Linked DNA regions of Homo sapiens. The protein of the gene in region 1 interacts with the protein of each later gene in a pairwise test. Each region holds a gene or a part of one and is shown in the gene's direction. Other genes may lie near its edges.

Region 1 (15,377 bases):
GGGATTACAGGCATGAGCCACTGCGCCCGGCCAACAATTGTAACTCTTATTTGAATTCTTTGAAGAGTTTGTAGATGTATACTACTACACTGCTACAAGTTCAGCTATAATGAACTTGGAGTAAATAATGAAGTCACAGTGCCAGAAAAACTTAGTGATCAAGCACAGTTAAGTTTATTAGGCCTGATACACGTAGGAGAAAGTGCCTCCTTGACAAAGTCTTAGTTGTGTCTCAGAATAGAGAAATTAGGAAATGGTGTTTATAGGATTTTAGGGCCTTGGCTGGATCATTTTAAGGTAGGTCTTGGCAAGGTATGTCCCTATTTGGGATTGGACAGTTATGACATTGTAGACATAAAGAGGGCAAGGGTTTTGAACCAAGTCTTGGTGAGTAAGCTGTTTAGTTGGTTCCCAGTGTTATCTTCCAAGAATCGTATATTCTAGATTGTATCTTCCAGATGTATCCTGGAGCAAGCAGCTAAGTCACTTTTGTTTGGTCTCAATGTTGTTTAACACAGGGATAAAAATACTGGTTTTTATTTTCAAAAGTAAGACCTGAATTAATTTACATGGACCTTTTGTTTGTTTCAGCTTTGCCCGAAGTTTTTACATACAAATTCTACTAGTCACACCTGGCCATTCAGTGCAGTTGCTGAATTAATAGGTATGTAGTTTGACATTTCATATACCATTTGTTGCTTACAATTGTAGTGTTTTTTTTTTTGTTTTGTTTTGTTTTTTTTTTTTAAACAGAGTCTCTCTCTGTCGCCCAGGCTGGAGTGCAGTGGCGCAGTCTCGGCTCACTGCAAGCTCTGCCTCCTGGGTACACGCTATTCTCCTGCCTCAGCCTCCTGAGTAGCTGGGACTACAGGCACCTGCCACCACGACCAGCTAATTTTTTTGTATTTTTTTTTAGTAGAGACGGGGTTTCACTGTGTTAGCCAGGATGGTCTCGATCTCCTGACCTCGTGATCCGCCTGCCTCAGCCTCCCAAAGTGCTGGGATTACAGGTGTGAGCCACCGCACCCGGCCTACAAAAATATTTTAAAAATCAGCTGGGTATGGTGGTGCAGGCCTGTGGTCCCGGCTACTCAGGAGGCTGAGGTGGGAGGATCACGTGAGACCGGGAAGTTGAGGCTGCAATGAGCCGTGATTGTGCCATTGCATTCCAGCCTGGGCAGGCGACAAAGCAAGAAAAAAAACAGATACCTTGAATGATAACATTAATGATAAAAATTGCATAGCATAACAGCTATTCACATGGATGTCAGATTAGTCACTGTTCAGCTTTCTCTTTAATACTACCCAAGTATTTCATAGTGTTTAGGATTTACTTTGCTAAGTTCCTGAAGTGTTTATATTGAAAATATTTTTATTTTTATTATAAAAGTAAACAGTGAGAATTATGGGGAATTTGTTTGCTTATTTTGAGATGAGGTCTCACCATGTTGTCCAGGCTGGTCTCAAACTCCTGGGCTCAGGCGATCCTCCCACCTCAGCCTCAGGAGTATCTGGGATGACAAGTGTGCACCACAGTGACTGGCAGAATTATGTTTATTAGTAGTACAAAAGTATGTGTAACATACAGCATGGATTCATTTTTCTGGTATCAATAGGAGGATTGGTATTGTGTTAGATATGTAATAAGTTCTTGCTTCTTTCAATAAATGGGAAGTTTAAGGTTTAGGATTGTATTTTAACAGCATTTCAATGAACGTGAGAAAGCGGCAAGGTTGCGGTCTGATTTGCATTTATGGGTCATGATTTTTTTCTTGGGAAAAATTCATGCATAGGCTGGGCACACAGTTGTTCACACCTGTAATCCCAACACTTTGGGAGGCTGAGGCAGGAGGATCACATGAGCCCAGGAGTTGGGGCCCACCCTGAGAAACATAGTGGGACCCCATCTCTACAAAAAATACAAAAATTCGCCAGGGTGGTGGTGCACACCTGTAGTCCTAGTGACTCGGGAGTCTGAGGTGGGAGGATCACTCGAGCCAGGGAAGTCAAGGCTGCAGCAGAGTGAGTCTTCCTCCAGCCTGGGCTACAGTGAGACCCTGTCTCCAGAAAAAAGGAAAAGAAAAAGAAAAGAAAAATTCATGCACACAAACATAAGCCTAATTGAAAAATTTAGGCATATGTTTAAGAAACAGATAATAAAGGGAAATTGTATTCTTAGGAATTCTTAGATATATTTTAGAATCTTTATCAAGGAAGGGTTCTATCATAGATGGAAGATAAAAGAAAAAGAAGGAATTTTTTTTTTTTTTTTTTTTTTTGAGGCAGAGTCTCGCTCTGTCACCCAGGCTGGAGTGCAGTGGCACAGTCTCGGCTCACTGCAACCTCCTCTACCTCCTGGGTTCAAGCACTTGTCCCTCAGCCTCCCGAGTAGCTGGGACTACAGGCACATGCCACCGCTCCTGGCTAATTTTTGTATTTTTAGTAGAGACAGGGTTTCACCATATTGGTCAGGCTTGTCTCGAACTCCTGACCTCAGGTGATCCACCCACCTCTGCCTCCCAAACTGCTGGGATTACAGGCATGAGCCGCTGCGCCCAGCCCTATTTTTCATTTTTAAACGTATTTCTTCCTACACCTATTCTGAGAGAAATGAGTATGCTAAACAAGGATGTTAAATGGAGAAGTATACAGAAATAAAAATGTAAAAGCCACCAGAAACTTGGTTTAACTTGGTTAAACTGAAAAGGATCACAATTTAAAGAAATAGTAGAAAGTAAATCTTCCATCCTTGTATGTAACTTAGCAGAAAATGTTGCTGCCTTTTCATTTATTTATTGATTATTGTGTACCTTCCATTGACACTCAGATCTCTTTCCCCTACAATAGCCAGGTTAGTCTCTCTCTTTTTTTCTTTTTTTTCCATTTTTGAGACGGAGTCTCGCTCTTGTTGCCCAGGCTCGAGTGCAATGGCGCTATCTCAGCTCATTGCAACCTCCGCCTCCTGGGTTCAAGCAATTCTCCTGCCTCAGCCTCCTGAGTAGCTGGGATTATAGGTGCCCGCCACCATGCCTGGCTAATTTTTTTTTTTTTTTTTTAATACAGATGGGATTTCACCCTGTCGGCCAGGCTGGTCTCAAACTCCTGACCTCAGGTGATCTGCCCACCTCAGCCTCCCAGAGTGCTGGGATTACAGGCGTAAGTCACCATGGTCAGCTTTTTTGTTTTTGTTTTTGTTTTTGTTTTTGGAGACAGAGTCTTGCTGTGTTGCCCAGGCTAGAGTGCAGTGGCACGATCTCCGCTCACTGCAACCTCTGCCTCCCAGGCTCGAGCGATTCTCCTGTCTTAGCCTCTGGATTAGCTGGGACTATAGGCATGTGCCACCATGCCTGGCGGATTTTTGTATTTTTTAGTAGAGATGGGGTTTCACCATGTTGGCCAGGCTGATCTCAAACTCCTGACCTCAGGTGATCTGCCCGCCTCAGCCTCCCAAAGTGCTGGGATTACAGGCGTGAGCCACCACATGCAGACTTAGTCCATCTTTTAATCATCTCTGCAGTGTAGTGATTTTTCTTCCTTTGTACTTCTTTGGTGTGCTGGGTACCAGTCTTTGCTGTCTCTTTAACATGGAGGGTGTTAATTCTATAATAGTCGATTAATATATACCAGGATGCAGTTTATTTTCATGTTTTTAAATCTTATTTTCATGTTTAAAATCTTTAAATTTTAAAGCTGCTAAAAATTGCAGCTTTTAAAGTTGTCTTAAAACATAGTCTTCTATTGCTTCTTACAGGATTGTTCTGAACTAATTGCTCTTTTTAAAGTGTAAAATCAGAATTTCTTCAAACTTGTGTTTCCCAGATAATGCTTATGATCCTGATGTGAACGCTAAACAAATATGGATTGACAAAACAGTGATAAATGACCATATATGCTTGACATTCACCGACAATGGGAATGGTATGACTTCTGATAAATTACATAAAATGCTAAGGTAGGTAAAAATGTGCCACACTTCTTAAAATTGTTGCTTTTACCTAAAGGGTTTTCCATGCCATACTTACTATTCTTGGTTTTTGTTTTTTGAAATGAAATGCTGTATGTACAGTGTGAGCTGTTCTCTAAGCATGATTTTCTACTACTGGTAGATGATGAGTCAGTCTTCACCACTGTCATCACCTACCCCACCCTACTTCCAACTCCCTAAAAGTCCACCATTCCTTTAGAGTTGTAGTATATTTATATCAATTACTGATAACTTTAGTGTAAATTAGGTTTAACCATTGTTTGTAATAAAACCTACCACTTTGTTGGGAGTAACTTTTAGAGGAAGAGATTCATGGGGTGAAATCTCACAGTCCCGGAAGCATGGGTTATACTCAGCTATTTAGTCAGGGTGTGCCAGCGATGAGTTTGCATGTTAGTACTTGTGATCCTTTTTCTCCCCTGTGATGTAGATTTGGTTTCCTTATTTCAGAGCTGGGAAAACACGTCAAGATAGATTAAAAGTAATCTGCCCGATACATAAAAAATCAACAACAACAAAAAAGTAATCTGCCCAAGATTATACAGCTAGGAAGGGTGAGGCCAGTATTTGAACCCAGGCTTTTTACTTGGTATTACAATTAATGAATTAAAAAAAAAGATTATAGGTATTTATTTATTTATTTATTTTTGATTATAGGTATTTATTTTTAAAAATCTTTATTTTCTTCTTAGCTTTGGCTTCAGTGACAAAGTCACCATGAATGGTCATGTCCCAGTTGGATTATATGGGAATGGCTTCAAGTCGGGTTCTATGCGTCTGGGTAAAGACGCAATCGTTTTTACCAAAAATGGAGAAAGCATGAGCGTGGGCCTTTTGTCTCAGACCTACTTGGAAGTCATAAAAGCGGAGCATGTTGTTGTTCCAATAGTGGCATTCAACAAGCACCATATCCTTTTGGTTGTGAAATAAAAGCTGTGGAGAAACTGAAGAAATAATTTGGAAACATTCTATGTTTTTGCCTTCTTCCAGATTATTCCCTTTGAATAACACCTATTCCATTTCTTACCTCTGTCCTCTGCATTTACCCTACACCTGAGGCTAAGGGTTTGTCCCTTTCTCTTCTCTGTTGGAATCCTGCTATGGAAATACTCAACATTTTATGTTAAACTTCCCATAGCTCTTCTGTTTACTTCAGGGTTATTGTAGACTAGTAAGACTTTATGGTTTGGCTTGAAAATTTGACTAGTGACCACAAAAGGCAGGATAACTTTAGGAAAATGCCTTTTGTATGAACACATTGGAATATTAGAAAGTATTAAGTTAGTTAGGAATAATAATCTGCTTATTTTTTATTCTTCTTCTTGTTCATTTGAAATCAAACTGCCATGTTAAAACTTAGAAAATAGGCTGAGCTCGGTGGCTGATCCCTGAAATTCCACCACTTTGGGAGGCCAAGACAGAAGGATTGCTTGAGCCCGGAATTTTGAGACCAGCCCAAGCAACGTAGGGAGACCCTATCTCTACAAAAAAAATTTAAAAATTAGCCGGTCGTGGTGGTGGGTGCCTGTGGTCGGTCCCAGCTAGGCTGCAGTTAGCCCTGATCATGTTACTGCACTCTAGCCTAAGCAATAGTGAGACCCTATCTCACAAAAAAAAAAACCTTAGAAAATTATTTATAAATAGTTTTTCTGTTATTTAAGTTTATAGAGTTAGTTTTCATATTGTAATTATGAAAACTATGTTGTCAATCTGAGTCTTTAACTTATGATATACGACAGATGATTAATTTAGCAGAATCAAAAGCCAGCCTTGCTGCAATTCTGGAACATTCTCTGTTTTCCACGGAACAGAAGTTACTGGCAGAACTTGATGCTATTATAGGCAAGAAGGGGACGAGGATCATCATTTGGAATCTTAGAAGGTAAACGTGGACATAGATGTTGACCGTTTGGGAAGTAAAGTGCACGTGCAGGGTGGTGGTGTTATATTCATCTCTCGTTACACACAGTAGAAATACATGGAAAGGTACTCATTTTTTGGTGTAGTTACTGATTTGTCTTTGCCCAGGATATGTTATAGAGGCCATTTCAGCTTCAATTTGAGATATTTTCATCTTGTTAAAAAAAATTTTTTTTTGAGACGAAGTCTCACTCTTGTTCCCCAGGCTGGAATGCGATGGCGCAATCTCAGCTGACTGCAGCCTCCGCCTCCTAGGTTTAAGCGATTCTCCTGCTTCAGTCCCCCGAGTAGCTGGGATTACAGTCGCCTGCCACCATGCCCGGCTAACTTTTGTATTTTAGTTGAGACAGGGTTTCACCATGTTGGCCAGGCTGGTCTAGAACTCCTGACCTCAGGTGATCCACCCGCCTTGGCCTCCCAAAGTGCTGGGATTACAGGCGTGAGCCACCACACCCGGCCAAAAAAAAAAATTTTTTTCTATCCCTGCCATTCAGTCTCCATTAGCACTCTATTCTCTCTCATTTATTCCACCCCGTCTTCTCAAAAAAAAAAAAAAAAAAAGAAAAAAGAAAAAAAGCAATGAGAAGACAAATTCAGGAGGATAAATCTTTCTTCATTGTGTACATTACTTAAAACTAAAAGTGATGTAGCACCTGATGAGAAAAGTAATATAGGTGAGATTTTTGTGTTGCTAAAATTTATAATCCTTTATCTTTGTGAGGATAAAATCCTTCGCAAATAAATTTTAAAATTTAAGACTAATGTCTAATACTGAAAGATCTAAGACATACTGAATCACAGGAATAAAGCACAGGTAGTGATAAGCCTAAAGAACTGAAAAAACTTGTGCTATTCTGATACCTGAATTCGTTTTTCTTGCTTTCACTTCCCTACCCCTCCTTCTCCTGGAGGATTTTTTCAATTATACTTTCTGAGGTAATTGTAGATTCATGTGTAGTTGTAAGAAGTAATAGAGAGATGTTAGGTACACTTCATTCAGTTTCCCCTGCTGGTAACATCTAACAAAACTATAGTACAGCCAGGCACACTGGCTCACACCTGTAATCCCAGCACTTTGGGAGGCTGAGGCGGGTGGATCATGAGGTCAGGAGATCGAGACCATCCTGGCTAACACGGCGAAACCCTGTCTCTACTAAAATTACAAAAAATTAGCTGGGCGCGGTGGCGGGCGCCTGTAGTCCCAGCTACTAAGGAGGCTGAGGCAGGAGAATGGCGTGAACCAGGGAGGCGGAGCTTGCAGTGAGCCGAGATAGCACCACTGCACTCCAGCCTGGGCGAAAGAGCGAGACTCTGTCTCAAAAAAAAAAAAAAAAACTATAGTACAGTAGTACTATTGATATTGACAGGATTTTGATGTTGATACAGTCAAGATGCAGGACACTTTAGTCATCACAGGAATCCCTCATGTTGCTCTTTTGTAGCCATACCCACTTCCCTCATAACCCCACTCCCTCCTTAATCCGTGGCAACCTCTAATCTGTTCTCTATTTCTATAATTTTGCCATTTTAAGAATATTACATAAACAACATGGAAACCTTTTGGATTTGACTTTTTTCACTTAGCATAACTCCTGGCGTTTTCCAGGTTCTTGTATGTATAGTTTGCACCTTTTCCTTTTTCTTTTTTTTTTCTTTCTTTTCTTTTCTTTCTTTCTTTCTTTTTTTTTTTTTTGAGATAGCGTTTTGCTCTTTCCCCCAGGGTGGAGTGAAGTATAGCGCCATCTCGGCTCACTGCAACCTCCGCCCACCGGGTTCAAGCGATTCTGCTGCCTCATCCTCCCGTGTGGCTGGGATTATAGGCACCTGCCACCATGCCTGGCTGATTTTTGTGTTTTTAGTAGAGACAGGGTTTTGCCATATTGACCAGGCTGGTCTTGAACTTCTGACCTCAGGTGATCCACATGCCTCAGCCTCCCAAAGTGGTAGGATTACAGGCGTGAGCCACTGCACCCAGCCAGTTTGCACTTTTTTCTTGCTGAGTAGTGTTTCATTGTATGTATGGAACCCAGTGTGTTTACCTATTCAAGACATCTAGGTTTGTAGTTTTGGGATATTACAAATAAAGCTGTAAACATTTGTGTACACAGTTTTGTGGGAATATAGTCTTCATTTTTCTGAAATAAATATCTAGAAGTGTAATTGCTGTATCATATAGTACTTGCATTTTATTTTCTAAGAAATGCCAGACTGTTTTCCTGAGTGTTTTCCTACCAGCAGTGTATGAGTGTTACAGTTTCTCCACATCATCCAGGATCCGTTTTCTTTCTTTTTCTCTTGCCTTTGCACCCCCAACCCCCCACTGACGTGCACCATGTGTAGGTTTATTTATTTGCTTACCTTTTTAATGACTTACAGTGTTTGCTGGCTTATCTTGCTGTGAAGTTAAATTTTGGTTCTTTCTAAAAATTATTTTTACAGCTACAAAAATGCAACAGAGTTCGATTTTGAAAAGGATAAATATGATATCAGAATTCCCGAGGATTTAGATGAGATAACAGGGAAGAAGGGGTACAAGAAGCAGGAAAGGATGGACCAGATTGCCCCTGAGAGTGACTATTCCCTGAGGGTATGTATTCAGCTCTCTTTGTGGAAGTGAGAAAATCATTGAATGCTGGTAGTATTAGGAGAGGTCATGTTACCTGCTTGTGATAGAAAGGCTGCCAGTGCTCTCTAAATGAAAGTATCTCAGACATGATTTTCCCTGGCCCACTCAGCCTGGGCAACAGAGTGAGGCTGTATCACACACACACACAAATTTAGTTAAACTTTTCATTAGCACACTGGTTGATTTATTTGTTTGGAAACCCTTTTTAAATTATGAAGTCGTCAGGCCTAACAATGCTTGTAGTTTTTACTATATGCTGACATTATTATCTTATTAGAATCAATATATTAGTCAGTATATGGTGGCCAGACTAATTCAAAAAACAACAAATTCAAAGTCTTATTAAATTTTAACGTATTTGCCCGTGCACGGTGGTTCACACCTGTAATCCCAGCACTTTGGGAGGCCAAGGTGGGTGGATCACAAGGTCAGGAGTTCAAGACCAGCCTGGCCAAGATGGTCTTGAACTCCGTCTCTACTAAAAATGCAAAAATTAGTTGGGCACGGTGGCAGGCACCTGTAATCCCAGCTACTCGGGAGGCTGAGGCAGGAGAGTCGCTTGAACCTGCAGGTGGGGCAGTGCGGTTCACGGAGGTTGCAGTGAGCGGAGATTGTACCACTGCACTCCAGCCTAGGTGACAGAGTGAGACGCCATCACACACACACAAAAAATTTAACGTATTCTAGAATACATACCTTAATTGTCCTCCTAAAGCAATAAATTATAGACTATAGTTAGATAAGGTACATTAATATAATTTTGTGATAAATGCCTCTAGGATTTTCCCTTTAGAAATGAGGTTTTTGTTTTTTTGTTTTTCTTTTTGGAGATTAGGTCTTTGGGTGTCACTCTCTCACCCAGGCTGGAGTGCAGCGGTGAGATCTCAGCTCACTGCAGCCTCTGCCTCCTGGCCCCAAGCAATCCTTCCACCTCAGCCTCCTGAGTAGCTGGGACTGCAGGCGTGTGCCACCACACCCGGCTATTTTTTTGTATTTTTGGTAGAGACGATGTTTCACCAAGTTGTCCAGGCTGATCTCAAACTCTTGGTCTCAAGTGATCCACCTGCCTCAGCCTCCCAAAGTGCTGGGATTACAGGTGTGAGCCTCTGCACCTGGTCAAAATGAGTATCTGTTTAAGATTAAAAGAAATGGGCTAGGCACAGTGGCTCACACATGTAATCCCAGCACTTTGTGAGGCAGAGACGGGTGGATCACCTGAGGTCAGGAGTTGGAGACCAGCCTGGCCAACATGGTGAAATCCTGTCTCTACTAAAAATAGAAAAATTAGCTGGGCACGGTTGCGGGAGCCTGTGATCCCAGCGGCTTGGGAGGCTGAGGCAGGAGAATCCCTTGAACCCGGCAGGCAGAGGTTGTGGTGAGCCAAGACCGCACCATTACACTCCAGCCTGGGCAACAAGAGTGAAACTCTGTCTCAAAAAATAAAAATAAAAAAAAGATTGGAGAAATTAATATCTTGATATAATAATGTCGATAAATTAATATCAAGGTTTTTTTGTTTGTTTGTTTGAGACGGAGTTTTGTTCTTGTTGCCCAGGCTGGAGTGCAATGGCATGATCTTGGCTCACCACAGCCTCCACCTCCTGGGTTCAAGGGATTCTTCTGCCACAGCCTCCCAACTAGCTGGGATTACAGGCATGCGCCACCATGCCCGGCTAATTTTGCATTTTTAGTAGAGACAAGGTTTCACCATGTTGGCCAGACTGGTCTCGAACTCCCGACCTCAGTGATCTGCCTGCCTCGGCCTCACAAAGTGTTGGGATTACAGGTGTGAACCACCGTGCCCGGCCAATATCAAGTTTTTTAGTTGTTTTGATAAGACATGTGATACTAACTTTTTGCTTTCTTTTTTTTTTTTTTTTTGAGACAGAGTCTCACTCTGTTGCCTAGGCTGGAGTGCAGTGGCGTGATCTCGGCTCACCACAACCTCCGGCTCCTGGGTTCAAGCGATTCTTCTGGCACAGCCTCCTGAGTAGCCAGGACTACAAGCATGCACTACCCTGCCTGGCTAATTTTTGTATTTTTAGTAGAGACAGGGTTTCACTATGTTAGCCAGGCTTCTCTTGAACTCCTGACCTCGTGATCCGCCCGCCTCGGCCTCCCAAAGTGCTGGGATTACAGGAATGAGCCACCTTGCCTAGCCACTTTTTGCTTTATTTCTTGTGTTGATATTATTCTTTAATCCCAAGCTGTGGATGTATTTGTCATTTACAGATTTTTCATGTAATTTTTGCTAAGGTCTTAGCAATTACATTATTAGTAATAGTAATAGTAAATAGTAGTATTACTATTTACTAAAATAGTAAATAGCAGATATTTACTGTTCCTTGATGTATCCTAATGTGTTCCTAGTGTTGAAAAAGTCTTATTCAAGTATGAAACAGGTTCAGAGGCAGCCAGAGAAGATGGTATGGTTTTAGTACACTACAAAATACAGTGTTTTTTAAATGACGCAAAGCACCACTTCTTTTGAAATCAAGAGTCAGGAAAAGTAGGAGAAGCTTTTAAGTTTTAGTTTTGTGTTGAATCTTTTTTTTTTGAGGTGGGGGGGTCTCCCTCTGTCCCCCACACTGGAGTGCAGTGGTGTGATCTCGGCTCACTGCAGCCTCCGCCTCCATACTTGACAGAAAAATCAGAAAATGTACCTTTTTGTACATATATACATTTTTTAAAATTAAAATGTGATCATACCATACGTGCTGTTTTGTAATCTTTTTCACTTAGTAATAAATATATCAGCATCTATATAGATCAGTTGATTGTATTCTGCAAGTCATTTTTACTGGCTGCGGTATATTGAGCTTATTTTTAATGAAAAATAACCAAATCAGAATAACATACAGCTTTATAGCCTATTTTATTGAAGAGTTAATTGATCTTTTATCAAGTTAATAGGAGAGCTTCTGTGTAAATCCATGTCTAAGTAATGGTGAGCAAACCTGTAGATACTAACTTCTTGTTATGTTATTTTCCAGGCTTATTGCAGTATATTATATCTAAAGCCAAGAATGCAGATCATCCTACGTGGACAGAAAGTGAAGACACAGCTGGTTTCGAAGAGTCTTGCCTACATCGAACGTGATGTTTATCGACCAAAATTTTTAGTATCCTTTTTCTGATTCCTTATAGAGATATGTTAGTCAGGTGTATTCTCTTTTGCCCCTTTCCCCTTATATGCTGATAGGGATTCTAGTCTGCTCTAGCTTTGCCCTCCTTTGTGTGCTTTTGGACTTACCAAATAATGAAATAGAAAGGATGATTTGAACTGAGTGAGGTGTTGTGTTCAAAATTTACCTTAATATTTTAAGTCTAAAACAGTGAGAATTACCTTTGGATTCAACTGCAGAAATAAAGATCATTATGGGATAATGATGTATCACAGAAATAGACTCATCAAAGCTTATGAAAAAGTTGGATGTCAGTTAAGGGTAAGCTTTATTTTTTATTTGAAAAGAAAATGTCTATTTTCCACAAAAGTTAGGATAATATATGCTCTTGAGTCAAATGTTAAATAATTTTATTGTACCTTTTGCCTATAGCTTTTTAATGTAAATTTGTAAAAAATAACACTGTGGTATTTGAACTTTTATTAACTCCCCTCCCCTCCCCTCCCTTCCCCTCCCCTGCCCTGCCCTCTCCTTTCCTTTCCCTTCCTTTTTTTTGAGACGGAGTCTGAGTCTTGCCCAGGCTTCAGTGCAGTGGCACAATCTTGGCTAAACTCACTGCCATATTCACCTTCTGGGTTCAAGTGATTCTGCTGCCTCAGCCTCCCAAGTAGCTGGGACTACAGGTGCATGCCACCACGCCTGGTTTTTTTTGTTTTTTGTTTTTTTTTTGAGACAGAGCCTTGCTCTGTCGCCCAGGCTGGAGTGCAGTGGCGATATCTCGGCTCACTGCAGCCTCTGCCTTCTGGGTTCAAGCAATTCTCCTGCCTCAGCCTTCCAAGTAGCTGGGACTACAGGCACGTGCCGCCACGCCTGGCTAATTTTTGTATTTTTAGTAGAGGTGAGGTTTCAGTGTGTCAGCCAGCATGGTCTTGATCTCCTGACCTGGTGATCTGCCTGCCTCAGCCTCCCAAAGTTCTGGGATTACAAGCGTGTGCCACCGCACTCGGCCAGTTGTTTTGTATTTTTAGTAGAGACGAGGTTTCACCGTGTTGTCCAGGCTTGTCCCAAACTCCTGACCTCAGGTGATCCACCCGCCTCGGTCTCCCAAAGTGCTGGGATTACAGGTGTGAGCCACCGCGCCCGGCTTTATTTTTATTTTTTGAGAGACTCTACCTGGCTGGAGTGCAGTGGCGCAATTTTGGCTCACTGCAGCCTCTGACTCCCAGGTTCAAGTGATCCTCGCACCTTAGCCTCCTGAGTAGCTGTGACTACAGGTGCATGCCAGCACCTTAATTTCTTTTATTTATTTATTTGTTTGTTTATTTTTTGAGATGGAGTCTCACTCTGTCACCCAGGCTGGAGTGCAGTGGTGTGATCTCAGCTCACTGCAACCTCCACCTCCCTGGTTCAAGCGATTCTCGGGCCTTAGCCTCCCAAGTAGCTGGGACTACTGGCGTGTGCCGCTATGCCAGGCCAAATTTTGTATTTTTAGTAGAGACGGCTTTACCATGTTGACCAGGCTGGCCTCAAACTCCTGAACTCAAGTGATCCACCCACGTCGGCTTCTCAGCGTGCTCAGATTACAGGCCTGAGGCAATGCGCTCGGCCTAGTATATTAATTTTGTATTTGATCCTGAACAGCCCTGAGGTGGGGACAGAATATTTCTTTTATCCCTATTTTATGCATAAGGAAGTTGGGGACCAGACACAGTGGCTCATTCCTGTAATCCTAGTGCTTCGTGTGGCTGAGGTAGGAGGATTGCTTGAGGCCAGTGCTTCAAGACCAGCTTGGGCAACATACCAAGTCTCTACCTCAGCTGAGTACGGTGCCTTACACCTGTAATCCCAGCATATTTGAGAGGTCTGGGCCGGGGGATTGCTTGAGCCCAGGAGTTCAAGACCAGCCTGGGCAATGGGGCAAAACCCTGTCTGTACAAAAAAATACAAAAATTAGCTGGGCCTGGTGGTGCATGCCTGTGGTCCCAGCTACCAGGAGGCTGAGGTGGGAGGATTGCTTGAGCCCAAGAAGTTGAGGCTGTAGTGAGCCAAAATTGTGCCTCTGCTTTTCAGTCTAGGCAACAGGGTGAGGTCCTATCTCAAACAAACAAACAAACAAAAATCGTCTCTACAAAACAATAAAAACAAATTAGCCAGGTGTGGTTGTACGTCCTTGTAGTCTTAGTTATTTGGGAGGCTGAGGTGGGAGAGTGCTTGAGCCCTGGAGTTTGAGGCTACACTGAGCTATGATTTTTGCCCCTGTACTCCAGCCTGGGCAACAGAGTGAGACCCTGTCTCTTAAAAAAAAAAAAAAAAAAACAAAGAAATTGGGGCAAATAACAAATAGATGAAGCAAGTTGCTTAAGACATAACAGCGTGGATCTCAGACACAAACACATCATTTGACTGCATTTGGATATGGATCCATTGCATATTTTTAAGATTTTGGTGATAATTCTTTGTCTTAACTTTATTCTGAGTTTTTTGTAGAATGATGTGAGATCTACACAGTATACCAATGCAGATTCACCTTGAATACCACTTAACAGGGGTTCTGACTCTGCTTCACCTACTTTACATGGCATGAGCCCAAATATAGCATATTTGCAGAAGTAAATGAACTTTATGTCTACCACAGAATGTAAATTTTTTTCTTTTTATCACCTATGAATCTGACTTAACCAAGATATATAGCCCATTTTCCCAACCGAGTTAAATTTGTACTGTACATATTTCCTAGTTAAGCTCGACCTTGTAAAGATAGGCTGTTACAGCTAAATTACAATGTTTATCTTTACCAGATGATGGACTGGGCCTAGTATTTGCATTCTGTGGATTCGGTAAACATTAAATAAGTATCAGATACCCATTGTGATTTGCTGTGCTGGGTGCTCAGCATAAAAAGTTGGTAAAATACAGAGCATGCCCTCAAAGCTCAGTTTTGTGAGGGGACTGTGGAACATCCTTGGAAGCATCAGAAAAGGCTTCTTAGAGAAAGTGTTGATTGAAATGAGTCTCAGTTGATTTCACTGTGCTGCAAAGTCTGGAAGGGCTTTCCAGGCAGAGACAACATGTGCAAAGGCAGAGAAAGAGGCTTCTGAGAGTATGACATCATAAAGGGAGTAATTTGATGTGGCTGGACCATATTTTAAGTGGAGAACAGAGGAATGAGAGAGACAGGATAAGGCTGGAAGGAAGATGGATAAGAACCACAAATTGAAGGATATTGTTATTACTGTAGTTTAAAAATAGTCTGAAATGGTGAACCTGATGGTTTTTAATAGAGCAGAATTAGGATTAGTTGTATGGTTTGGTCTATAGTTGGGTTTATAAAAATTTTCATTTTATGAGTTACACATTTTACTTTTTTCTTCATAGACTAAGAAGTATAGCTACAATCATGAACAAAATATACTTGTTAGTCACACGTAGATAATCAGAAGATGACTCATATACTTTGAGTTCAACATTTTAGCTAGCAGATTTAAAAAATAACTAATTTAACCAACCTAGATTTTTACTTCATTGTTAGCAACTGGATACCTAACTTTGGGTAAATGACTTTAACTTTTATCTCACAAACGTATGGAATATTGCCTTTCAGAGCCTTTGCTAGTCACTACAAGATCAGGATGAATTATTTGTGGTTTCTGTTCTCTAAGAAATTGTATCCTAGTAGAGGTAGTCCTCTTTTCTTTTCTTTTTTTGTCTTTTTGAAAGATGG
Region 2 (15,377 bases), on another chromosome or scaffold:
AACCAGGCATGGTGGCACGTGCCTGTAATTCCAGCTACTCAGGAGGCTGAGGCAGTAGAATCGCTTAAACCCAGGAGATGGAGGTTGCAGTGAGCCAAGATCACGCCACTGCACTCTAGCCTGTATGACAGAGGGAGACCCTGTCTCAAAAAAAAAAAAAAAAAAATACATGGGCATTTTTGCTGATCAGAACACAGCTGTTTTCCAAATGGTCTTACTTACCAAAAATACCTAAGTCACGTGAACTAAAAGGCATTGGAGTTAGGTCCTGTTTTTCTGATAAAAGATTGAAGTGCTTCCTTTTTCCTTAAACCGATTATCAGAGTTCTCTCATATATTTTGGTAGAGAAATACCACACACACATAACGCATATATAGACACGGAGACACAGAGAAGCAGATCTTATAGCCTTCGTTAAAATTCTTTATTTGCCAGTTTTCAAATACAGTTTACACTTGAACAACATGGTGGTTAGGGGTGCCAACCCCTGTGCAGTTTAAAATCTGCATATAACTTTTGACTCCCCAAAAACTTAAGTACTAATAGCATACTGTTGACCAAAGCCTTAACTACTTAGTACTACTTAATAACTACTTAACTACTAATAGCATACTGTTGACCAATAACATGGTTAACATGCTTTAGTTAGTATATTATGTGTGTGTGTGTGTGTGTGTGTGTGTGTGTGTGTGTGTGTGTGTGTATGTATATAAAAAATATACTGCATTCTTATAATAAAGTAAGCTGAGGAAAGGTTAAGAAAATCATAAAGAAACTGGACACGGTGGCTCACGCCTATAATCCCAGCACTTTGGGAGGCCAAGGCCAAGAGTTCAAGACCAGTCTGGCCAAGATGGTGAAACCCCGTCTCTACTAAAAATACAAAAATTAGCTGGGCATGGTGGTGAGCACCTATAATCCCAGCTACTTGGAATTTAGCTTGTTTCTTAATGAGTTACTGACTTCAGGACTGCCAAAGACTAACCAGAGCTTCCCTGGGGTAGAGTTTCAGCATTAAAATGAGGTGGAATTTGGCTTTTTCCTTCAAAAGGTGAACTGTAGGGCACAAAGACAGTTTGTGTGCAGCCTCTATAAGCTGGCAGAAACTGGTTTAAGATCTATATGTAGTAGTTCATCAGAAAACGATGTTTGTAAGGCCAGTCCTCTGTCTGTGTTAAGAGTTGTAGTGGGTTTCTGGGTTGTAAATCAGAGTTAGGGAGGGGTCTGATATTTGCCTGATACCGCCTATTGGTATGGAGCTTAGCAACAGTTTGATTTTTCTTGGAGCATAGGAATTTAGGGAGTTGCTATACCAGTCACCCTGAACCCTGACCTCATAGGTGATTTTTGTTTCCTTAACCTTAAGGGTCAGGGCAGACACAGTGGCTCAAAACCTGTAATCTCAGTCCTTTGAGAGGCCTAGCAGGAGGATCACTTGAGCTCAGGAATTCAAGGCTGTAGTGAGCTATGATTGTGCCACTATACTTCAGCCTGGGACCTTGTATCTAGTTATTATTTATTTTTTCTTTTTTTTTCCCCTTTTTTTTTTTTTTTTTTTTTTTTTTTTTGAGATGGAGTCTCCTGTTGCCCAGGCCAGGATGCAGTGGTGCAATCTTGACTCACTGCAACATGCACGTCCCAGGTTTAGTGATTCTTGTGCCTCAGCCTCCAGAGTAGCTAGGATTACAGGTGTGTGCCACCGTGCATGACCTTTGTCTCTAATTTTTAAAAAACAGACAAAACCTTAGGATCTGTCTTAGTTTATAAAGGGGCATCTATTTTGCTTTCAGATAACACCGTAGAGCTGAAACATTTTGGAAATGGCTTTCTAAGGGTCACGTCTGATATTTCAGGCTTTGCCTGGCCCATAAGTAGACTGGATAGTACTTGTCAGGTCCTGAATATCATCCTCAGGAAAATAATATTCTGCTTCTGCTGCTTTTATCCGTTTTTACTCCCTCTCCTTCCCCTGGTCCCACCATGTGTTAGCTGGTAATAAGTCAGGTATCCTAGGATCATAAGTTATAATTAAGACTCTGAATTCTTTAAAAAATGTCTGAAAGTCTTCCCCAGGTTTAGGACATTTTTAAACTATGACCTGTTTTTATCCGTAGCATGTAAGTCAGGAATTTCATGCTACATTTTCAGGTTGTTCTGTTTTATAAGGAAACAGTTGAACTGTTCTTTTCAGAGAAGAAAGGCAACTCAGAGTTAGTAGACTGTGAATATTCAGGAGTAGATGCAGTATTCAGGTAAAATGGGAGCAGTAGGAGTTACATTAGTTTATCTGTCTTTGGTGTGGGAGGTAATCTTGCGTTTCTAGTTTTTCATTAGCTTTTTGCAGTTAATCTTTCAAAAAAGCTATTTTAGAATTCTGTTGTCTCTTTGAGGCTTCTGAATGCCAGTAAGAATCTCGTTCTCTCCGTGTAATTTGGAGTCTTAGGATTCAAGTGAATTTCTTGGATGAACACTCTTTTTCATCTGGAACATTCCACATCATGGTCATCATAATTCTGAATTATTTTTGGTAAAGTTTTGCCACTTGTGTAACTATTTGTAGCTTCTGGAGCCAGAAGTTTTATACATGAAAAGGCAAGACTACCAGAAGGCAGAGTACTCCAATTTTTAGAAATTAGGGATGCTGTTTTTATGTTGGACCTTGTATATCTCAGGACCGGGATGACGTTGGCTCCAAGATGTCCTACCTAGCCAATCACTTTGCAGTTTCCATCTGACTCAGTCAAGACACCTGAGGCCTCCCTCACCTAAGCCTGCAAGAAAAGGAATCCACATACCCACAGATTCCAAAAGCCTGAGTTTATACCCTCCCTGCACTCAACACAGCTGGTATCAGTTAGCTTTAAAACTGCACCCCTGTATGCTAGCAGCAAATGGAGTTGCACCCACATTTCTGTCTGGCCATAATCTTGGGGGCTTGACTCAAGCCGTAAAGACCTCTGCAAAGAGGGAGCAAAAAATACAGTTATTGCCAGTGATTTGTGAGCCCCCACATTCCCAAAAGTCCTGTGCCCTGCCATAGCCCAGATTAACCCTAGGTACTGCAAAGTCAAATGCTCTCTCACAGTGCAGCCTAACCTTGGTACCCTCAAAGTCAAAGAGACCAGGTGCTAAAAAGACAGCAGAGCTCAGACCTGAGAAGGACTTCCGACACTTGCAGCTCCATGAGGAAAACGTTACTTCCCAAAAAAGGGAGTTAGCCGTTTTTCCTGTGTTCCTTGAGTTACCTCAAGATATCAACAGTCTCTGTCCCTTTGGGTTGCCAGACCTGTCAAAGGACAAAATTACAACAAATTTAGTGTAAGGATCTCAACTGTCTTTATTGTGAGTCTAGCATCAGGCAATGCTTCATTCCAAAATGGAGAGTAAGTGTTCTCGTTGCTCTTTTTTTTTTTTTTTTTTTAAGACAGTCTCAATCTATCACCCAGGCTGGAGTGCAGTGGCCTGATCTCGGCTCACTGCAACATCCCGAGTTTAAGCAATTATCCTGCCTCAGCCTCCCGAGAGTAGCTGGGATTACAGGTGTGTGCCACCACACCCGGCTGATTTTTGTGTTTTTAGTAGAGATGGGGTTTCACCATGTTGGTCAGGCTGGTCTCTAACTCTTGACCTCAAGTTATCCACCCACCTCAGCCTCCCAAAGTGCTGAGATTACAGGCGTGAGCCACCGTGCCCTGCCCTTGTTGCTTTTTACATTAATTTTATACTCAATCACCTTACCATTATTATCTGTAGTGATTTTTCAGTTGACTCTTAATTTCTTGAAAACGTGCATCTGATCTGTCTTTCCAATTTTTATGCTTCTTTCACGTGTCTAATTATATTACGGTACTTCCTCAAAAATTTTAATAGTGTTGATAGAGAAGAGCACGAATGGCCACAGACATAAATGGGAATACTTAATGTTTCTTCATTAAATGTGATGGTGCCTTTTTGCTTTAGATACCATTTCTTTAGTTATGTTAAGGAACTAGTCATTTACTTTGACTTAAAAAAATTTTTTTAGAAGTGAATGTAGGATTCTGTTACATTCAATTTCAGCATCTTACAGAGATTGTCATGTGGTTTTTCTTCCTTGACCTCTTAGTTGGTAAGTTATTGTCTTTGAAAAGACTCCCCTTGGTTGTGGCATTGTAATGTAGTAGTAATGTGCTGCTGGGGATTCCATTTGCTAATATTAGTGTTTTCTCCGTAGATCTTACAGGTGGAGATTGGCCCGTAGGTTTGTGTGTACGTATGATATCCTTGACATGTTTATTTTTTTATAAGCATGATTCTGACTTCATAAAAAGTTTAGAAGTTTTCTTTTTTTTTTTTCTTTTTGGAGATGGGAGTTTTGCTCTGTCACCCAGGCTGGAGTGCAATGGCGCGATCTTGGCTCACTGCAACCTCTGCCTCCCAGGTTCAAGTGATTCTGCTGCCTCAGCCTCCCAAATAACTGGGATTACAGGCATGCGCTACCACTCCCAGCTAATTTTGTAGTTTTAGTAGAGATGGGGTTTCACCATGTTGGTCAGGCTGGTCTCAAACTTCTGACCTCAGGTGATCCATCTGCCTCAGGCTCCCAAAGTGCTGGGATTATAGGCATAAGCCAACCGTGCCTAGCCAGAAGTTTTCTTTATTTCTTCGAGGGTTGTTTTTTGTTTGTTTGTTTGTTTTGTAGAGTCTTCAGAACCAATGTATTCTTTGAGGTTTTGAATATATTCTATAGAATTAAACAAAACAGACTGTTGTTCTACTTTGTCTTAATCTGTGACTCCTTATGTTTTTTCCCTTATTTAGTTCGAATGGTTATTTGAACTAACCATTATGTGTCCCCCTCCTTCCCTTCCCTCCCTTGTTTTCCTTCCTCCTCCTCTACCAAAGAAACAGCTTCTTCTCTTCTACAACTCCAGTTATGTGTTTTGAAGACCTTTTTGTTCTTGACGTGTTCTCTTATCTAATGTTGCATTTTGTCTATGCCTTACTATGGCTATTCTGACCTGGCTTTCAATGCACTAATTTCTCTCTTCAACTGTATTTACTTAAAATGCTATATATCCATATGTAGCATTAGTTATTGTATTTTTAGTTTTTGTATTAGTTATTGTATTTTTCCATTCTGGAATTTGCGTTCGATTCTTCTTCTTCTTGGCTGCAGTTCTCAATCTAGTCTTTGATTTCCCTAAACATGCTGTTACTTTAGAATTCATGTTGTTAATTTCACTGTGTGAAACCCTTGTATATTTGTTTCTGTTGTCTGTTACTTCTCTTGTTTTGATTTTCTGTTGCTGCATTAAGTTCTTGTATGCCTAGTTATTTTTGATTGAGTGTAAGTCATTGTATATGAAAATTTTGGGATTCTGTATGATGTTGTTTCTCTATAGAGGATCTTAATTGGTTTCTTGAAGAAGAGTAAGAGCACCAGCACCTCACATTCAGGGAGTTAAACTCTCCACGCTGCGATTCAGTTCCTGGGAGGTCCAGGGTATTTCCAGCTTGGCCCTTACTTCAGTGGCATAGTCCTCAGGGACCCACCCTAAAGCCTGAGATTCACCATCTCCTTTCTTCTAGGGACTTCCCAGAGGAACTGTTGTTACCAGTTTAGCATGTATCCTTCCAGGTCTTTTCTTTGAATTTGTATGTATCCATGTGTATATACATGTGGGTACATATACATACTTTTAGAAATGATTTTGTTTGTGTCTTATTGACATATTTTAAGTAAATGGAATCATTCTGTGTATGATTTTGCAGCTTGCTTTTCTTCACTTAATGGCATTTCTTAGTGAAGCTTCCCATTTCAGTACAGACTGAGCTACCTCTTTTTTTGGTAGGGGTCAGTTGTAGAGTATTTTGTAGAACAAATAAGTAATAGTTTATTTAACCATTCACTCAGGGACAAACTTCACAATGTCTCTAGGCTTTTTTCTGTTTATGCTGAATATTCTTGTATATGCCCTTTTTCGATAGAGTTTATAGAACAGTATGAAAAAATGATGACAGACATACATTTTTTATTTATATTTATGTATTTGTGTATTTATTTATTTATTTGAGACAGAGTCTTGCTCTGTCTCCAGGCTGGAGTGCTGTGGTACCATCTTGGCTCACTGCAACCTCTTGACTCCCTGGTTCAAGCAATTCTGCTCCGTCAGCCTCCCGAGTAGCTGGGATTGCAGGCACACGCCACCATGTCCAGCTGATGTTTGTATTTTTAGTAGAGACGGATTTTCACCATGTTGGCCAGGATGGTCTCGATCTCCTGACCTCGTGATCCGCCTGCCTTGGCCTCCCTGAATGCTGGGATTACAGGCATGAGCCACCACGCCTGGCCTACGTTTTTTATTTTAATAAATAGTGCCAAATTTCTCTCCTAAATTCACCAGCAGTAAATGATAGTATAAGAATTTTCACACATCGGCCAAGCGCGGTGCCCCACACCTGTAATCCCAGCACTTTGGGAGGCTGAGGTGGGCCAGTCATCTGAGGTCAGGAGTTCAAGACCAGCCTGGCCAACATGGCAAAACCCTGTCTCTAACAAAAATAGAAAAATTAGCTGGATGTAGAGGTGTGCGCCTATAATCCCAGCTACTCGGGAGGCTGTGGCAGGATAATTGCTTGAACCTGGGAGGCAGAAGTTGGAGTGAGCTGAGATCATGCCATTGCACTCCAGCCTGGGCAATAGAGCGAGACTCTGTCTCAAAAAAAAAAAAAAAAAAAAAAAAAAAGATTTTTCACCATCCTCACCAATGCTTGGTATTATCTAATTTAAAAGTTTGCCGGTCTTACAGGGAAAAAAATACTGTCTTGTTTTAATTTTTCATTTTGCTAGTTACTAATGAGATTTAGATTTTTTTATATGTTTTTTGAACATTTCTTATTCTTCTGATGTGTTAGCATTCTTTCATTGTTGTATCTGCTGTGGAGTTATTTTTGTTTTAGTAGTCTCAGGTTAAATTATAATTCAGGGCTGGGTTCAGTGGCTCATGCCTGTAATCCCAGCACTTTGGGAGGCTGAGGGAGGCGGATCACTTGAGGCCAGGAGTTTGAGACGAGCGTGGCCAACATGGCAAAACCCCATCTCTCTTAGAAACACAAAAATTAGCTGGACATGTTGGCACATTTTTGTAATCCCAGCTACTTGGGAGGCTGAGGCACAAGAGTTGCTTGAGCCCGGGAGGCAGAGGTTGCAGTGAGCCGAGATCGCACCATTGCACTCCAGCCTGGGTAGCAGAGGAAAACTGTGTCTCAAAAATAAAAATAAATTATAATTCAAACTATATCTCAAGCTTTAATCTATGAATGACTACTTTGATTCTTACAGATAGTATATAGTGTAATCAAATTTCAGTGTTAAGATAAATGTAAAGAATAGGTATTGTTAAGGGAGATGGTGTTTTTGTTTCTTTCCTGTCCTATCTCGGAAGCTCAATATAAGTACATAAGGAGGGATAGGCATAGGAAAGAAATTGAATTATTAAAATTTCATTTTTTCTTAGACAAATAAACCTCAGAGATCACGACCCAATCTCATCAAACCAGCTGCCCAGTGGCAAGATCTGAAAAGGTTGGGAGAAGAAAGGCCTAAAAAGTCTAGAGCAGCATTTGAATCAGATAAGAGCAGCTATTTTTCAGTGTGTAACAACCCATTGTTTGATTCTGGGGCACAGGATGATTCTGAGGATGACTACGGTGAATTTCTGGATCTTGGGCCTCCTGGAATCTCTGAATTCACTAAGCCAAGTGGCCAAACAGAAAGAGAACCCAAGCCTGGACCGAGTCATAACCAAGCAGCAAATGACATTGTCAACCCCAGATCAGAGCAGAAAGTCATCATCTTGGAAGAAGGTAGCCTTCTTTACACAGAAAGCGATCCTTTGGAAACTCAGAACCAGTCATCCGAAGACTCAGAGACAGAGCTGTTATCAAATCTAGGAGAGTCAGCTGCTCTAGCAGATGATCAGGCCATCGAAGAAGACTGCTGGTTAGATCATCCTTACTTCCAGTCTCTGAACCAACAGCCCCGTGAAATAACAAACCAGGTCGTTCCTCAGGAACGGCAGCCTGAAGCAGAACTGGGCCGCTTGTTGTTTCAGCATGAATTCCCAGGGCCCGCTTTTCCAAGGCCGGAACCCCAGCAAGGTGGGATTTCAGGCCCCTCTTCTCCTCAGCCTGCCCATCCTCTAGGAGAGTTTGAAGACCAGCAGTTAGCAAGTGATGATGAAGAGCCAGGTCCAGCCTTTCCAATGCAAGAATCTCAAGAGCCCAATTTGGAAAACATTTGGGGGCAAGAAGCTGCAGAGGTAGATCAAGAGCTCGTTGAACTACTAGTGAAAGAAACGGTAAGTTTTATTTTATCAAGTAAATGTAGACACTACATATACTGAGTTTTTTTCTTTTTTTTTTTTCATTGCAAAAAAAAAAGTTGTTGGTATGCGTGGACTTCATTTTCCTAAGAAGTATATATCTAGATGTACAGAATAGAAGAGACACTCTGAAGACATGAAAATGGAATCAGGGTTCCTTTACTATACTTAACCTTCAGGAAGCTCTCTGGGATTCTAACTGCATATCATGGTGGCCTGGTGCTGTCATACCTGCAGTCCCTTGTTTTTTTCAAATTCCTTGAGTTCACTCCAAATGGAAACCCTTAAAGCAGTTTTATTGAATTACCTAGACCTATGCTGTCCAATATGGCACTTACTAGCTCCTTGTGGCTGTTTACATTTAAATGTCTTACAGTTAAATAAAATTTTCCAGTGGCATCAGTCACATCTTAACCTTAGTAGCCACATGAGGCTAACAGCTTACCTCATCATCAAGCATGGAGGACAGTGTTTCTGTCATCCAACAAAGTTCTATTAGTGGTGATATTAAGAGTAACACAAGGGCTGGGCGTGCTGGCTCACACCTGTAATCCCAGCACTTTGGGAGGCCAAGGTGGGTGGATCACAAGATCAGGATATCAAGACCATCCTGGCTAACACGGTGAAACCCTGTCTCTACTAAAAAAATTAAAAATTAGCCGGGCGTGGTGGCGGGCGCCTGTAGTCCCAACTTCTTGGGAGGCTGAGGCAGGAGAATGGTGTGAACCCAGGAGGCAGAGCTTGCAGTGAGTCAGGATCGTGCCACTGCACTCCAGCCTGGGCGACAGAGTGAGACTCTATCTCACAAAAAAAAAAAAAAAAAAAAAAAAAAAAAAAAAAAAAAGGTGTTACATCTGGTAGCCACTATTTGCCTTCAAACAAGTCCGTTAACCCTACTTTACCCAGGCGGGTTTTTTTTGTTTTGTTTTTGGTTTGTTTTTTTTTTGAGACCGAGTCTCACTCTGTCACCCAGGCTGGGGTACAGTGGTGCGATCTCAGCTCACTGCAACCTCCGCCTCCTGGGTTCAAGCGATTCTTCTGTCTCTGCCTCCCGAGTAGCTGGGATCACAGGCACATACCACCACGTCTGGCTAATTTTTGTATTTTTTTAGTAGAGACGGGGTTTCACCATGTTGGCCAGGCTGGTTTTGAACTCCTGACCTCAGGTGATCCGCCTGCCTCGACCTCCCAAAGTGCTTCGATTATAGGCATGAGCCACTGCACCCGGCCACCCAGGTGTTTTTATCTAGGCACTAGGTTGTGTGCTGCTTGAGGGCTGGCATGAGATTGTAACTTATTTGTGTTTGGATTCCCTTTGTCTAGACAGAGATGCTCAATATTTGTTGAAGCAATGAAGAATGGATCTGTAAAATGGGGACAGAGAACCAGATCTCTCAAGACCTTTCTAGACCTCATCTTCTATGTAGACAGATGAATCTGGGAACTAGTGTTGAATTTGAAGACACACACAGACCTGCTTCACAGCCCTTTTCTAGTCTTTAGTCATTTTATTATACTTTTTGCCATCTGTCTTGTATTGCCATTTGAAACCATTCTAGTGAATGAAATATAAATTATGTTCTTATTTGTTTCTAGGAAGCAAGATTTCCAGATGTAGCAAATGGGTTTATTGAGGAAATAATTCATTTTAAGAATTATTATGATCTGAATGTGTAAGTATACTACCATGCTTTTTTTGTGGTGGTGGTGGTGGTGGTAAAATATATGTAATAAAAAATTTACCATTTTAATCATTTTTAAATATACAATTTGGTGTTGTTAAGTAAATTCACATTATTATGCAACTATCACCACCATCCATCTTCAGAACTCTTTCATCTTCTCAAACTGAAACTCTGTCCGCATTAAACACTCACTCCCCATCCCCTTCCCAAGCCAGTGGCACCCACCATCCTACTTTCTTTCTATATGGATTTGGCTACTATCAGGGACCTCATGTGTTTGTTCTTTTCTGACTGGCTTATTTCACTTGGCATTATGTCTTTTTTAATGACCTTGTTCGTTCTGACATTAGTGATACACAGACTGTTTTCTGGATTTTATGGAATACTGCATGGTTATAGAATTATGATAACTGAGTTGTTTCTAAGCGTTGATACTACCTGTGTTTTAGTCAAGATGTTAAGACATTTTCTTCCCTACGATTGTAACAAAATGTTCTGCAACCACTCTGTTTGGAGAAATACATGGAAGCATTTTTTTTTTTTTTTTTTTTTTTTTGAGACGGAGTCTCACTCTGTCTCCCAGACTGGAGTCCAGTGGTGCGATCTCGGCTCACTGCAAGCTCCGCCTCCCAGGTTCAGGCCATTCTCCTGCCTCAGCCTCCCGAGTAGCTGGGACTACAGGCGCCTGCCAGCACGCCTGGCTAATTTTGTGTATTTTTAGTAGAGATGGGGTTTCACCATGTTAGCCAGGATGGTCTCGATCTCCTGACCTCGTGATCCACCCGCCTCGGCCTCCCAAAGTGCTGGGATTACAGGTGTGAGCCACCGCTCCCAGCCATATTTCTTAATTTTCATTATAAAAGGGATAAATACGGGCCAGACATATGGTTCACACCTTTAATTCTGGCACTTTGGGAGGCTGAGGCAAGAGGATTGCCTGAGTCCAGGAATTCAAGGCTGCAGTGAGCTGTGTTACGCTACTGCACTCCAGCCTGGGAGCCAGAGTGGGACCTTGTCTCTTATTTTAAAAAAATTTTTTATAAGTGGTAAATATGCTTTTTTAAAAAATAAGTTTTCCTGAAGAATATAAAATGAAAAATATACTCTTTCCCCTCCTTCTAATCTGCAGAGGTGAAATAATTGTAATTTTTTTTTTTTTTTTTTTTTTTTTTTTTTGGAGACAGTCTTATTCTGTTGCCCAGGCTAGAGTGCAGTGGTGCGATCTTGGCTTAAACAGCAGTCTCCACCTCCCAGGTTCAAGCAGTTCTCCTGCTCAGTCTCCTGAGTAGCTGGCATTACAGGCGTACTCCACCCTGTCCGGCTAATTTTTGTATTTTTAGTAGAGACAGGGTTTCATCATGTTGGTCAGGCTGGTCTTGAAACCCTGACCTCATGATCTGCTCACCTCCACCTCTCAAAGTGCTGGGATTACAGCCATAAGCCACCGTGCTCAGCCTGGTGGTAAATTTAAACAAAATAGTTCACTAAACACCTTTCCCCAAAGTTCCTATCTTATACTGTAGTTCTCAGTCAAGGTTGCAGGTGAGTTTCTTCCCTGCCAAGGCTGAGAAGGAAGGGCCCCTTTCCAGGTGCTTAGCCCAATGTAGGTACTTTTTTCTAATTTGTACAATGACACTGTTGGAGCCATTAGTGGCCTTGTCTGATCCCACCTCTGTACAGAGGCAACCACTGTCATCAGATTTATATTTATTTATTTATTATTATTATTATTATTATTATTTTTAATTGATCATTCTTGGTTGTTTCTCGCAGAGGGGGATTAGGCAGGGTCACAGGACAATAGTGGAGGGAAGGTCAGCAGATAAACAAGTGAACAAAGGTCTCTGGTTTTCCTAGGCAGAGGACCCTGGGGTCTTCCGCAGTGTTTGTGTCCCTGGGTACTTGAGATTAGGGAGTGGTGATGACTCTTAACAAGCATGCTGCCTTCAAGCATGTGTTTAACACAGCACATCTTGCACCGCCCTTATTCCATTTAACCCTGAGTGGACACAGCACATGTTTCAGAGAGCACTGGGTTGGGGGTAAGGTAATAGATCAACAGCATCCCAAGGCGGAAGAATTTTTCTTAGTACAGAACAAAATGGAGTCTCCTATGTCTACTTCTTTCTACACAGACACAGCAACAATCTGATTTCTCTATCTTTTCCCCACATTTCCCCCTTTTCTATTCGACACAGCTGTCATCGTCATCATGGCCCGTTCTCAATAAGCTGTTGGGAACACCTCCCAGACGGGGTGGCGGCCGGGCAGAGGGGCTCCTCACTTCCCAGAAGGGGCAGCCGGGCAGAGGTGCTCCCCACCTCCCGGACGGGGCGGCTGCCGGGCGGAGGGGCTCCTCACTTCCCGGACGGGGCGGCTGCCGGGCGGAGGGGCTCCTCACTTCTCAGATGGGGTGGCTGCGGGGCGGAGGGGCTCCTCACTTCTCAGACGGGGCGGCCGGGCAGAGACGCTGCTCACCTCCCAGATGGGGTCGCAGCCTGGCAGAGGCGCTCCTCACATCCCAGATGGGGCGGCGGGGCAGAGGCGCTCCCCACGTCTCAGATGATGGGTGGCCCGGCAGAGACGCTCCTCACTTCCTAGAAGGGATGGTGGCCGGGAAGAGGCGCTCCTCACTTCCCAGACTGGGCAGCCGGGCAGAGGGGCTCCTCATATCCCAGACGATGGGCGGCCAGGCAGAGACGCTCCTCACTTCCCAGACGGGGTGGCGGCCGGGCAGAGGCTGAAATCTCGGCACTTTGGGAGGCCAAGGCAGGCGGCTGGGAGGTGGAGGTTGTAGCGAGCCGAGATCGCGCCACTGCACTGCAGCCTGGGCAACACTGAGCACTGAGTGAACGAGACTCCATCTGCAATCCCGGCACCTCGGGAGGCCGAGGCTGGCAGATCAGTCCCGGTTAGGAGCTGGAGACCAGCCCGGCCAACACAGCGAAACCCCATCTCCACCAAAAAAAAATACGAAAACCAGTCAGGCGTGGCGGCGCGCACCTGCAATCACAGGCACTCGGCAGGCTGAGGCAGGAGAATCAGGCAGGGAGGTTGCAGTGAGCAGAGATGGCAGCAGTACAGTCCAGCTTCGGCTGGGCATCAGAGGGAGACTGTGGGGAGAGGGACAGGGACAGGGACAGGGAGAGGGAGAGCTATTTATTTATTTTTGAGACGGAGTCTCACTCTGTCACCTAGGCTAGAGTGCAGTGGTGTGATCTCAGCTCACTGCAGCCTCCATCTCCCAGGTTCAAGTGATTCTCCTGCCTCAGCCTCCCAAGTAGCTGGGATTACAGGCATGCGCCATCATGTCTGGCTAATTTTTGTGTTTTTAGTAGAGACAGTTTCCCTATGTTGGCCAGGCTGGTCTTGAACTCCTGACCTCAGGTGATCCATCTGCCTCGGCCTCCCAAAGTGCTGGGATTACAGGTGTGACCCACTGCACCTGGCCTTCCCTTAATCTTTATCAATTTTACTTAACATGCTTGTCAGTAAGGCAAAACCGTTAAGAGTGTACACTACCAGGCCATAGATTGGTGGTGTTGGTCAGTTCTGGAAATTTTGTAGCTGTTTCCTGTCTTCTGTAACTCTTCTCCCACAATCTCCATGTCTCTAAGTCCACCTCTTTGTCTCTGAGATGCGTTCTGGATGATTTCTTCAGGGGTGTTCTTTTAGCCCACAAATTTCTCTTCAGTAGAGTGTAATCTCCTTTTAACTCATCTACCGTGTTACTGGTTTTCAGTTATGAAATTTTAGCTTTTAATTGTCTTGGTTATTTTCCTAGAGTTTTGCTCTTTGCCTATATTTTTAATCTTTTTTTAATTTCTTTAACCAATAAACATAGCTTCTCTGTGAGTTTGATTGTTCTGATATGTTAAGTTCTTGGGAATCATATTCTGTTCTTCCTGCTGGCTCCCATGGTGCCTAGTTTTCTTGTGTATTTTCTAAATTTGACTCTAAGCTCATATCTTGAGTTCTTGATAGAGTTGGTTTCTTTAGAGATTATTGCTTTTGCTTCTTTCAAGTCCCCAAGGGCAGTGTCAGTTTGAAACGACTTTAGACTCCTGTCTTGAAGTTTTTGGATTACACAAACTCTTTTTTATTTATTTATTTTTTTTGAGACGAAGTCTCACTCTCTTGCCCAGGCTGGAGTGCAGTGGCGTGATCCTGGCTCACTGCAACCTCCGTCTTCTGGGTTCGAGCGATTCTTCTGCCTCAGCCTCCTGAGTAGCTTGGATTACAGGTGCCCACCGCCCAGCTAGTTTTTGTATTTTTAGTAGAGATAGGGTTTCACCATGTTGGCCAGGCTGGTCTCGAACTCCTGACCTCAAGTTATCCCACTGTCTCAGCCTCCCAAAGTGCTGGGAGACGTGAGCCACCATGCCCTGCAAACCTTTTATTTATTTATTTATTTATTTATTTATTTATTTATTTATTTTGAGAGAGAGTTTTGCCCTTGTCGCCCAAGCTGGAGTGCAGTGGCATGATTTCAGCTCACTGCAACCTTCGCCTCCCAGGTTCAGGTGATTCTCCTGCCTCAGTCTCCCGAATAGCTGGGATTACAGGCATGTGTTACCTCACCTGGCTTGGATTACCCAAACTCTTAAAGCATTTTTTATTTTTCAACGACAGACTCTACCTGGGTATTTAACCTTGAAAGCCATTTGGTTATTTACATGCCAGTTACTCACTCTTCTGAAGCCTTTCCACATATTCTTTATTGTGTATAGTTTTTAAACTTGGTTATTATAGAATATAATATACATAAAGAAAAATGAACAAAGTAAAGATGCACAGCTCAATAATTTATCACAAACCAAACATTTGTGTAACCACAACCCAGAAATCTTCAAGAAATAGAACGTTGCTATCCTTTTTGAACACTACATAAAGATTTTGTATAGTCTATAGTCTTTTGAGTCTGATTTCTTTTCACTCAGCATTATGTTAAGTTTATTCATGTAGGGTAGAACCACAGTTTATATATTTTCCATTGCTAAATGGTATTCCATTTATACCACTTAGCAATGAAATTTTCCATCTACTTTTGATAGGCATTTGAGTTCTGACTGTCACAAATAATGTAGCTGTGAACATTCTCCTGCTTGTCTCCTGAACTCTACTTGCCCCACACCCTGGCATCCACCTTCCTATTGGCTATGTTTGTGTCTTCCAGCAGAATTGTTTGTTGGAGATTTTTTTCCCCTCCTAAGCTTTTAAAATACTTTCTTTTTGGGTTTCTAAGTGGCATGATAATAACTACATTTTTTTAAATTACTAAGCTTTATTTTTTTAGAGCAGTTTTAGGTTTATAGGAAAATTGAG

The links.
Region 2: the proteins of MORC3 (region 1) and RNF216 interact in binary tests that used the Homo sapiens proteins (3 or more experiments, as listed by UniProt).

Annotation. Positions count from the first base shown.
Region 1 is NC_000021.9:36,333,055-36,348,431, forward strand, and holds part of MORC3 (MORC family CW-type zinc finger protein 3), read left to right. Parts: intron 1-591; coding exon 592-664; intron 665-3,819; coding exon 3,820-3,952; intron 3,953-4,677; coding exon 4,678-4,892; intron 4,893-5,719; coding exon 5,720-5,867; intron 5,868-8,344; coding exon 8,345-8,492; intron 8,493-11,524; coding exon 11,525-11,653; intron 11,654-11,857; coding exon 11,858-11,977; intron 11,978-15,377.
Region 2 is NC_000007.14:5,733,939-5,749,315, reverse strand, and holds part of RNF216 (E3 ubiquitin-protein ligase RNF216), read left to right. Parts: intron 1-7,500; coding exon 7,501-8,343; intron 8,344-9,963; coding exon 9,964-10,040; intron 10,041-15,377.